Homo sapiens: one gene and its partner. The protein of the gene in region 1 purifies or fractionates together with the protein of each later gene. This does not show direct contact. Each region holds a gene or a part of one and is shown on either strand. Other genes may lie near its edges.

Evidence for each region.
Region 2: the proteins of NUBP1 (region 1) and ZNF507 purify together in Homo sapiens (affinity purification with mass spectrometry; one large-scale study listed by BioGRID and IntAct). This does not show direct contact.

The regions. Positions count from the first base shown.
Region 1 is NC_000016.10:10,760,086-10,765,053, reverse strand, and holds part of NUBP1 (cytosolic Fe-S cluster assembly factor NUBP1), read right to left. Parts: intron 4,143-4,968; exon of another isoform or gene 3,691-4,142; coding exon 3,580-3,690; exon of another isoform or gene 3,486-3,579; intron 3,298-3,485; coding exon 3,195-3,297; coding exon of another isoform or gene 3,191-3,194; intron 2,538-3,190; exon of another isoform or gene 1-2,537. UniProt on the Homo sapiens protein: Component of the cytosolic iron-sulfur (Fe/S) protein assembly (CIA) machinery. Required for maturation of extramitochondrial Fe-S proteins.
Region 2 is NC_000019.10:32,344,258-32,349,143, forward strand, and holds the start of ZNF507 (zinc finger protein 507), read left to right. Parts: upstream 1-1,352; 5' UTR 1,353-1,526; intron 1,527-2,987; 5' UTR 2,988-3,081; intron 3,082-3,227; exon of another isoform or gene 3,228-3,373; intron 3,374-4,856; exon of another isoform or gene 4,857-4,886. UniProt on the Homo sapiens protein: May be involved in transcriptional regulation.

The sequences.
Region 1 (4,968 bases):
TGACTGAGACGAGCATGGCACTCGGGCAGGCACGCTTCTGGGAGATGCAGCCCCTCTGATGGGTAAGTGGGCTCAGGAATGCCCTGGTGGCTGTGCCCAGCTTTCCTCGACAGCAGCCAAGACACTCCAGCAGACAGATGCTCCAACAGACTGACATACTCCAGCAGACTGAGATGCTCCAACAGACTGACATACTCCAGCAGACAGATGCTCCAACAGACTGACATACTCCAGCAGACTGAGATGCTCCAACAGACTGACATACTCCAGCAGACTGAGATGCTCCAACAGACTGACATACTCCAGCAGACTGAGATGCTCCAACAGACTGACATACTCCAGCAGACTGAGATGCTCCAATAGACCTACTCCAGCAGACTGAGATGCTCCAATAGACTGACATACTCCAGCAGACTGAGATGCTCCAATAGACTGACATACTCCAGCAGACTGAGATGCTCCAATAGACTGACATACTCCAGCAGACTGAGATGCTCCAATAGACAAATACTCCAGCAGAATGAGATGCTCCAATAGACAAATACTCCAGCAGACTGAGATGCTCCAATAGACTGACATACTCCAGCAGACTGAGATGCTCCAACACACTGGCATACTCCAGCAGACTGAGATTCTCCAATAGACAAATACTCCAGCAGACTGAGATGCTCCAACAGACTGGCATACTCCAGCAGACTGAGATGCTCCAATAGACTGCCACACTCCAGCAGACTGAGATGCTCCAATAGACAAATACTCCAGCAGACTGAGATGCCAAAAAGCAAAGTACACTGAGGTGCTCCAGCAGGCTAAGATGCTCCCATGGGCTGAGATGCTCCAGTGGGCTGAGACGCTCCTTCGGGCTGGGATGCTCCCGTGGGCTGAGATACTCCTGTGGGCTGAGATGCTCCTTTGAGTTGGGATGCTCCCGTGGGCTGAGATACTCCTGTGGGCTGAGATACTCCCTTGGGCTGGGATGCTCCAGTGGGCTGAGATGCTCCTTTGGGCTGGGATGCTCCCATGGGCTGAGGTACTCCTGTGGGCTGAGATGCTCCTTTGAGTTGGGATGCTCCCGTGGCCTGAGATACTCCTGTGGGCTGAGATACTCCCTTGGGCTGGGATGCTCCCATGGGCTGAGATGCTCTTGAGGGCTGGGATGCTCCCTTGGGCTGAGATGCTTCCAGGGGCTGAGATACTCCTATGGGCCGTGATGCTCTTTCGGGCTGATATGTTCCTTCCCCCACTCCTTCATCGTGGGCTAACGCTCTCCCTTGTCATTTTCTCCCACAGATGTTTCCCCTGACAAACGTCCTGCCCACCAATCCCATCTCGGCAGAGCTGAACTGTGGCAGAGGTGCAGGCTGGCAGGAATGGATGTGCCCTGGGCTGCTGCAAGCTCCTGTCCCCAATCACATCCATTCATGCAGCCCAACTGCCTCCAGGGGCCTCAGAGGGCAGCTCTCATCACCACTTCCGGCCACTGCAAAAGCTGCCTGGTGAGTGTTTTATGATGCTGGGGAAGGTTGAGAAAGCAGCTGTACTTTTCTGCATGTTGTTGGGGAAATCACATGCCAGAGAAGTATTGTGGGATGTGGGAATAAGGGAAAAAGGATTTGGGGACACAGCCTCCTGGGCACATGGGGTCTCTGGCGTTCTCCCGGGCTGTTCCCATCTTCAGAGTGGCCCTCGCACCCTACCCCCCTACCACTTCCTCGAGGCAGCCATCCCCCAACACTGTCCTCCTGGCTCCCGCTTTCTGCACGGCCCCTTGGCAATCCTGTCCATGTCCTGTGGCTTCAAAACTCAACTGCACGGACATGAACCACCTTCTCCTGACGGACCCCAGAACCTGCTGACAACCTGAGCCCCCGAGCCCCTTAGCCGCAGCACCCCAGAGGGCCCGGCCTCCCTCTACCACCCCTGCTTCACTGTCTCTGAGGGACGGACCCTCCTCCAGGTGACTTGTACTGGCAGCAGGGACAACCTTGACCCTCAGATGCCGTCACTTTCTCTCTTGTGTGTGTCCCTTCCTTTCTACACCAACGCCAGAACCCAGGGCCTCATCCTGAACCCCTATCCCAGGGCAGCCACTCCTGAGCCTCCTGTTCCCAGGCACATGACACTGACAGTCGTTTCCCACAGGCTCCCATTCTCCCCATGCAGCCCTTCCCCAAGGCTCCCCACGTGGCCTCCGCCCTCCCCGCCTCCAGGCTCTCCACGGGCCCCGCCCTCTCCCCAAGCACGCGGCCCCCACCCTCTCCTGGCCAGGCCATACTTCACCCGCCCGGCCCCTCTCTCCTGTCCCGGCACAGACACCTCACACTGGCCTTGGTTCCCTGACAAATGGAGTGGAAGTTCCGAGGCATGGGTGCAGCCGGCACTCCTGGATCCCGGCCTCCCCTCCAGCCTTCTCTCTCTGTTCTCCCCTCAGACCTAAAGGCGAGTGCTGGACGCCCCGCAGGAGCCCCACTAAAGGGCCCCAGTAACGGAGGCCCGCCCGGCTCCGCGGTCCTGGGGGACAGCAGCCTCCTGGGGGAGCAGCTTCGAGTGTAGGCCCTGCCCAGCGCCCCGCGGCGAGTGGGCGCCCGGCGGGCGTGTGGGTGGAGACGTGAAACCCCGTCCCTCCTTCAGCCTCAGGGCCACTCAGGGAGTGGGCATCTCTTGGGATCCTGGGAGACCCACGTACTTAAGAAGAGCATTTTTTGGGAACTTGGCCCCTGCTCGCAGGCCAGTGATCCGCGTTCCGGTCTGTCCCGGTGCTGGAGACAAAGGGGCCTCATCTGTGCCGTGCTGGCTTCTCCGGGCACAGGAGGCCCGGCCCCTTCCTAAGGGATTTTCACCTCAGGCCGCCTTCCTCTGTAACCTGGACGCCATGTGCATCCCCTGGAGCCGCCCCTCTATCGGGTGCCCTCCTCAGTCCCCTGCCACCACCACCCTCACCAACCTCTACCCCATTCTTCCAGGCCTCACCCCTCTGCCTGAGGCCTGCTTGCTCCCGCTACCTGCCCGCAGGGGTCTCGGCCTCTCTCCCGGTGGCCTCTTGGGGTGCCAGCTGGAGGGTGGGTCTGGCTCCAGCGCCCCATTGACCCTCCTCCTTCCATTGCCCCTCTCTGTAGCCGCCCCCTGTTGTGCCCGACCCGTGCCTGTGGGGCTGACCGAGGAGTGAGGTGCCGCCCCACACTGGGGTCACCCACCTATGAGCGGATCCAGGGGCACTCTGCCGAGGAGAGGGACCTCCAAGTCCTGGCACATGAGCTCCGCGCCCCCGGTTGTGGGAGGGAATATCTGAGATTCTTTCTGCAAGGCAAATTCAAAGGGGAGGAAACATAATTTTTTTGCAGAATCACAAGGATGGACCACATTTTAAAGAAACTTAAAAAAAAAAAAAAGGCTTAGTTTGAATGTGGAACCCTTAACACCTAAAGAACTTTCCTTTAGTCAGCAGAAAGGGATTTTAATTGTGATTCCACTTCCCAAAATGACAGGGAAAGCAGAAATAGTTTGCAGAGCAGCCTTCCGATCGTTTCCTCATCCATGAGAGCAAGATCTTGCTCGCCTGGCAGCCCCACGCGCCCTCACCTTGCACTTAGGACAGATGAAGCCACTCATGTTCTCCACCACCCCGATGATGGGCAGCTTCACCTTGCGGCAGAAGTTGATTTCTTTCCGGACATCCTGGAGTGACACCTCCTACGAAGGTGAAAAGACCAGTGATTCCAGCATCAAAGTGCGAGAAAGGGAATGTCTGTGCAACCGAGGGGATGGCTGCAATGCAGTGGATCTGCGATCATAAAGCCTTAGAGGTTTCTGCCCTGATAGGGTTTGGCTCTGTGTCCCCATCCAAATCTCAGCTCGAACTGTAATCCCCATCATCCCTACATCCCTACAGGAACAGGCAGTTCCTGGTGGGAGGTGATTGGATCATGGGGGCAGTTTCCCCCATGCTGGTCTCGATAGTGAGTTTTCACGAGATCTGATGGTTTTGTAAGTGTTTGACAGTTCCTCCTACACACTCTCTCTCTCACTGCTGCCACTGTGTAACATGTGCCTGCTTTGCCTTCCACCATGATTGTTAAGTTTCCTGGGGCCTTCCCAGCCATGCAGAACTGTGAATCAATGAAACCTCTTTCCCTTATAGGTTACCCAGTCTCAGGCAGTTCTTTACAGCAGTGTGAAAATGAACTAATGTATGCCCTCTGCCAAATCCATATTTATTTAGTACCTACTAGTGCTAAGCCCTGTTTGTTCGAGGTGCTATTTACTTCCCACACAGCCAAATAGCAAGAAATCAACCTAAAAGAAAATGACTTTTTTTTTTAGAGACAGGATCTCACTGCTGCCCAGTCTGGAGTGCAGTGGCATAATCATTGCTCACTGCAGCCTTGACCTCCTGGGCTCAGGCAATCCTCCTGCCTCAGCCTCCAGAGTAGCTGGGACTACAGGCATGTGCTACTCTGCCTGGCTAACTTTTTAATTTTTTATAGAGATGGTTGTTGCCCAGACTGGTCTTAAGCTTCTGGTGTGAAGTGATCCTCCTGCCTCGGCCTCCCAGAGTGTTAGGGTTAGAGGCGTGAGCCACTGTGCCTATCTGAAAATGACCTTTTAACGCATCTACATGCTCCATGTCCCTATACTATACTATATTAAGCCAGTGTGTGCACTGTTTTCTAGACCAGAGCTTGGCAAACCCCAGCCTGGGGGCTGAATCTGGCTGGTTTTATAAATAAAGTTCCTCCGGAACCAGCCATGCCCGTCCCTCTAGGCACCGTCTGTGGCTGCTTCATGCCACAGTGGCACGGCTAAGGGGCTGGGACAGGGACCGTGGGGTCCGCAACGCCTACTTCCTATCTGGCCCTTTACAGAAAAGTTTGCCAATCCCTGCTCTAGATAATTATAAACACAAACAACTGACTAAAAGGAAATAAGGAATACTGCCCAATGTGGACAACTTTGCATTTCCTTCTCAAC
Region 2 (4,886 bases), on another chromosome or scaffold:
CTATTTGGTCTAATTGGCAAAGGATTCTGTGGAATAGCAGAATTCTAACTTTGCAGCCGGGCGCGGTGGCTCACGCCGGTAACCCCAGCACTTTGGGAGGCTGAGGCGGGCGGATCATGATGTCAAGAGATCGAGACCATCCTGGCCAACATGGTGAAACCCCGTCTCTACTAAAAATACAAAAAAATTAGCTGGGCATGGTGGCACGCCCTGTAGTGCCAGCTACTCGGGAGGCTGAGGCAGGAGAATCACTTGAACCTGGGAGGTGGAGGTTGCAGTGAGCCGAGATTGCGCCCCTGCACTCCAGCCTGGGGAGAGAGTGAGACTCTGACTCAAAAAAATAAAATAAAAATAAAAATAAAAATTCTAACTTTGCTGGTTTCCTAACCCCCAAATTCAGATGAATTTGAATTCTGAAATACAGTAACAGGAATTATCAGCCTGTCTGATTCTAAATTTTGTTGGATCTTCCTCCCAGGACCGTGGACAGCCCAGCCAGCTGTAAAGGCCTCTAAAAAGATCTGGAACAGATCCCCAAGAGGTATCTCACCAAATGAGTCCATTCCACTACAATGGCCAGAATCTTCAGTTTTACACCCTTGCTCATGCCCACCGCTCACCCGGAGTCCAGACCCAAGCACCATGCTGCGTAGTTCCTAATACGGCAAAACTATCCAGCATTTTTGGTGAAATTGGCTGGAATGCTTCACTTAGTCCGTTTTTCACTGTTAGCAGGAGAACCACCCTAGTATCTTTCATAGAACAGATCCGAATGACAAACACCATCGTGCCCTCGGAGGGCTGAGCTTGTGTTACTGGGTCTGGTCCTACAAACCCTGAAAATCCTGAATCTCTCAAGCAAAGAGATTCCCCAGGGCCAGCTCTGGCCCTTAACAGGCACCCCTTAACGCCAAGCTGCGAATCTGGCTAGGACCTCTATATTTTAGCCAAGAACACCTTGAAATGTACAGTCCTACCAAAGGAACTAATACAAATCCAGAAGCACAAGGCTAAAGAAAAAAAAAAAAAAAACCCCAATGCCCATTGTTGAAAGCCAATTGCGGGGTGAGTGGGGTGATAAGGCTAGCCCACAGCGGATTTAGGCGACGTGGGGAGATGCCAAAGTGAATACACGGTGACTTCTAAATCTAGACGTCTGGAAGGGGCCATGAGAGCCAGACAACTGGGCCCGAACCCCGCCCGGGAGCCAGGGTTTGCAAGGGGCTAAACCGGCTGGGGAGCCTCCCTCTCGCGGGTCCAGCCTCGGCGGCCCGGGACGCCGGTAGGCGGGGCCTGAGCCTCGCCCCGCCCCCGCTGCCCGCCATTCGGGTCACCTGACCCACCCGCGGCTCACGTGATCCGTCCCCAGCGCCGCCATTTTGGAGCTCCGGATGAGGAGGGGGAAACCGGGGGAAAAGAGGGAAAAGAGCCGGGAGAGAGGTGGGCAAGGACGAGGGCGAGGGCACGGCCGGGTCCTGGCTGGCCAAACGAGGCTCGCGGAAGCAGCAGCCGCCGCCTGACCGCAGGTACCGCGCCCCGGGGCCGCCCCTCCGCCCGCTGTTAGCGCCGCCGCCGGCCATGTGCATCCTCCCCTCAGGCCTCTGCCGGCGCTCGCTTCCTCCTCAGCCGGCCGACCCCCGCCCGGTGCTAGCCACAAGCCCCAAGTTCCGTGTCCCGGTTCTGTCTTCTGTGCAGCAAGGCCTGCGGAGACTCTGGGCTTGCCCTGCAGCTGGGGGTGGGGGGAACTTGCTGCTCCCTGCATACTGTCACCAGCCCGGCCCGCCCGCAGGCGTTGCTTCCTTCTCCAGGCGTTGCTTCTTTCTGCAAATGTGAGATCGCTTAGGCCAGCCGGGATGGACCCAGCCACGATGTTCTCACAGCATCTTTTGATTAATTTTCTAAGCTCCCTCATTCCCGACCCATCACCTCAGTCCTTTAGCCAGTGCGTGGTGTAGAAAAAGCTACTACAGAAACGCAGCCCTGGTCTTCTGCATTTATTACCATCCTCTGGAGATAGAATGATGTCTCCAGAGATCACGGAGACCATCAGGGAAAGTTCCCACCTCTTAAGACCTGGGGGCATCGGAATGAATGGTTTGTGTAGAAGGCCGGGATGATTAATAAGGTGGCGGCCACTTTCCCAACCCCAAGGCGGTATTTTTAAGTTTCTGCAGTGGGCTGTAATTTGCTATCAGTCTGCATCGCTCTTCTCAGGCAATTACTGGATTTATCACCTCTTTGAGTTTGCACTTTCTCCAGTACTCCCCTCTCACTCAGAGTATGGGTTGCATTATTGATTAAAAGAAAGCCTGGCCCTTCATTCCTTTACCTCACTAACTCGTTGAAAATTAACTTCAGGGGAGCCCTAAAGATGTTTTTTCTGCCCTGGCAGTGAGCTATTTTACTTAACCGTAATCGATAAGGTAGTTGCATTCTAGGTGAAACGAATAAGCATTTTTTTATCTTTTAGATTTATTCCAGCCAGTATAAGAAACAGTGGCAAAGAAATGTAGGACCAGAGTAGGAAACTGCGTTAGAAGATATATAGGTCACACCACTGTGTCATATCTTTTTATGCTGTTTTTCTGCCTATTGTGCTTGGTTGCAGAATCACTCGTTAGATTGTATTTTTAGTTTAGATTAAAATAGCAATGTGCAATTTATTGTTCCATTCTCATTAGAAAATGTTGTCAGTAAAACCAATAGTGTTGAGTCCAGTACCTAAATTCTGAGGTAAAACAAAATACACAATTATTGGGAGAAGTTTCCAGAGCTATTTTTTCCTAACTTCTGCAAAATCCTCAAGTCGGCTTGTTAGATAAATTATTTAAATTTGCATTACGTAATAGGGTTGCATGAACATTCCTCTGAATTTCTTTTTACATGGAATATTGAGAAATTTTTCACTGCCAAAAAAAAAATCATTACTTTGTTTCACCAAGAAAGAGAAATGTTTTGATACTATATACTTTCGTTCTTGGCCACAGCTGGATTTTGAAGATTGATCCAAGGGACTGTATTAATTTCAGGAATTGATTTGAAAGACACTGGCTCTGCCACTTAACAGCCATGTAACCTTGGGTAAGTCACTTAAACCACACTGAGTGTTTCCTTATTTATAAGACTGTATAACACCCACCTAGCCTGTCCTAAAGAGTTATGAGGATCAGATACCACTAACATGTTTGATAGAGCCTAGCTGTAAGGAGCTGTTACTCTTTTCAGTATTGATATTTTGTACATTTTTATTCTCATTGAGAATTAAGATGAAAATTGGTGTATTAGAGAAAGCATGGTTTTAGAGTGAGATTGGCCTGGATTCCTGTTCTTAAACCAGTTACCACTTTGTGTCTGTGAGTCTCAGGTTTCTCATCTGCAAAAAAAAAAAAAATACACAAAATTTGAATATTACACAAAATCTACAGAGGCATTACTCCCTAGACTTGCACCTCATGGGCAAGGATTTCCTCAGTCATTTTTGTAGTCCCCAGCATTCTGGTTGGCACATTATAGGTGCTCAATAAATGACAGTAAATCTGAATATTGGTTAATGTTAGTTAGACCTTATGTCTTCATTGCAGCTGCCAAATTAGAATATTCTCTCAGGCTATGTGCCAACTAAGAAACTCTAGACTATGAAACTCCATATACTTGTGATATTTATACTCATTTTTTTCTTAGTGGTAATTAATAATTACCTTGGGCTCAGAAGATTTTAAATCAAATAAATTGTAGCCAATATAGTGAGGTAAATCTATAAATAATGTGTAAGCAGTTTCCAGGTAACTTTATAGACAGTTTATAATTCAGGGACCTGAAAGTTCATCTAGCTTCACCCTCTTGTTTTACATCTGAGCAATCTAAAACTCACAGAGACAGTGACTTGCCTAAGGTCACACAGCTAATTGAGGGCACTTTAGGGGAGGGACCCTTGAGCTTATGTCCCCTGCCTTCTTTTGGCTGGAGCAAAATAAATTTGTCATATTTTAGAATTACAATAATCTGGAAGAATGGGGAATTTATTGGCCATTACTTTTATAGCACAATTTTTTTTTTTTTCCCATTTTGGAAAAAACAAATTCTTGTTCTGAAAGAGAAGGTTCTTTTGTATCATATTGTACTTTTCTTCATATAAACACAGAAAATTACAGCCTTTTCTCCAGGCCCACATGAATTGTTCAACTTGATTTTACTCATGATGACCATACTACTGTAATTATAAAGAACTAATTAGATACCCAAATAACCAAATAGCAAATTATAAGGAAATAAAGACAACTGAAATAATTTGGCTCCTAACTTTTTGTGAGAAAGATATTAATTAGAAGCATTTGCCTGTGGAATACTGTTGTCAAGGAAAGATTTGAGAGAGTTGGTGGAAAGGGTTATAGAACTTTTCTGGTTTGGGATACAACTTTTGTTTATTACTTATTTATTGGTAACAATTTAATATATTTAATGTTGTTATGTCTAAACATTACAAACAAGAAATCTCCTGTTTTGCTAATGCCTGTCGTCTTCTTTCCTCCTGGTGAACTTTCCTATTCAGCCATATCGATCTTTTCACTCACCCCCAGATAGCATGCTTATTCTTACTTCTAAAAATATAGTCATGTCATGGCTGCTTTTCTGGTCACTGCTACCCTTGTGTCAACTTGTATCAGCAGTATTCCAAGGAAGCAAATGGCACGTTGAAATGAGGATAATTCAAGGAAGGTATATTTACAAAGATATTAGTAATAAAGGTGTTGGACTTCAATAAGCAAACCACAGCATAATGCAGTTATCTGGAGCTAGCAGCATTAGGAGAGGGAGAGGCATCAGAATCAGAAGAAGGGTCTTGGAGAGCAGCCTACCTGGAAAGAAATAGCCTTCTATTGAGGAAC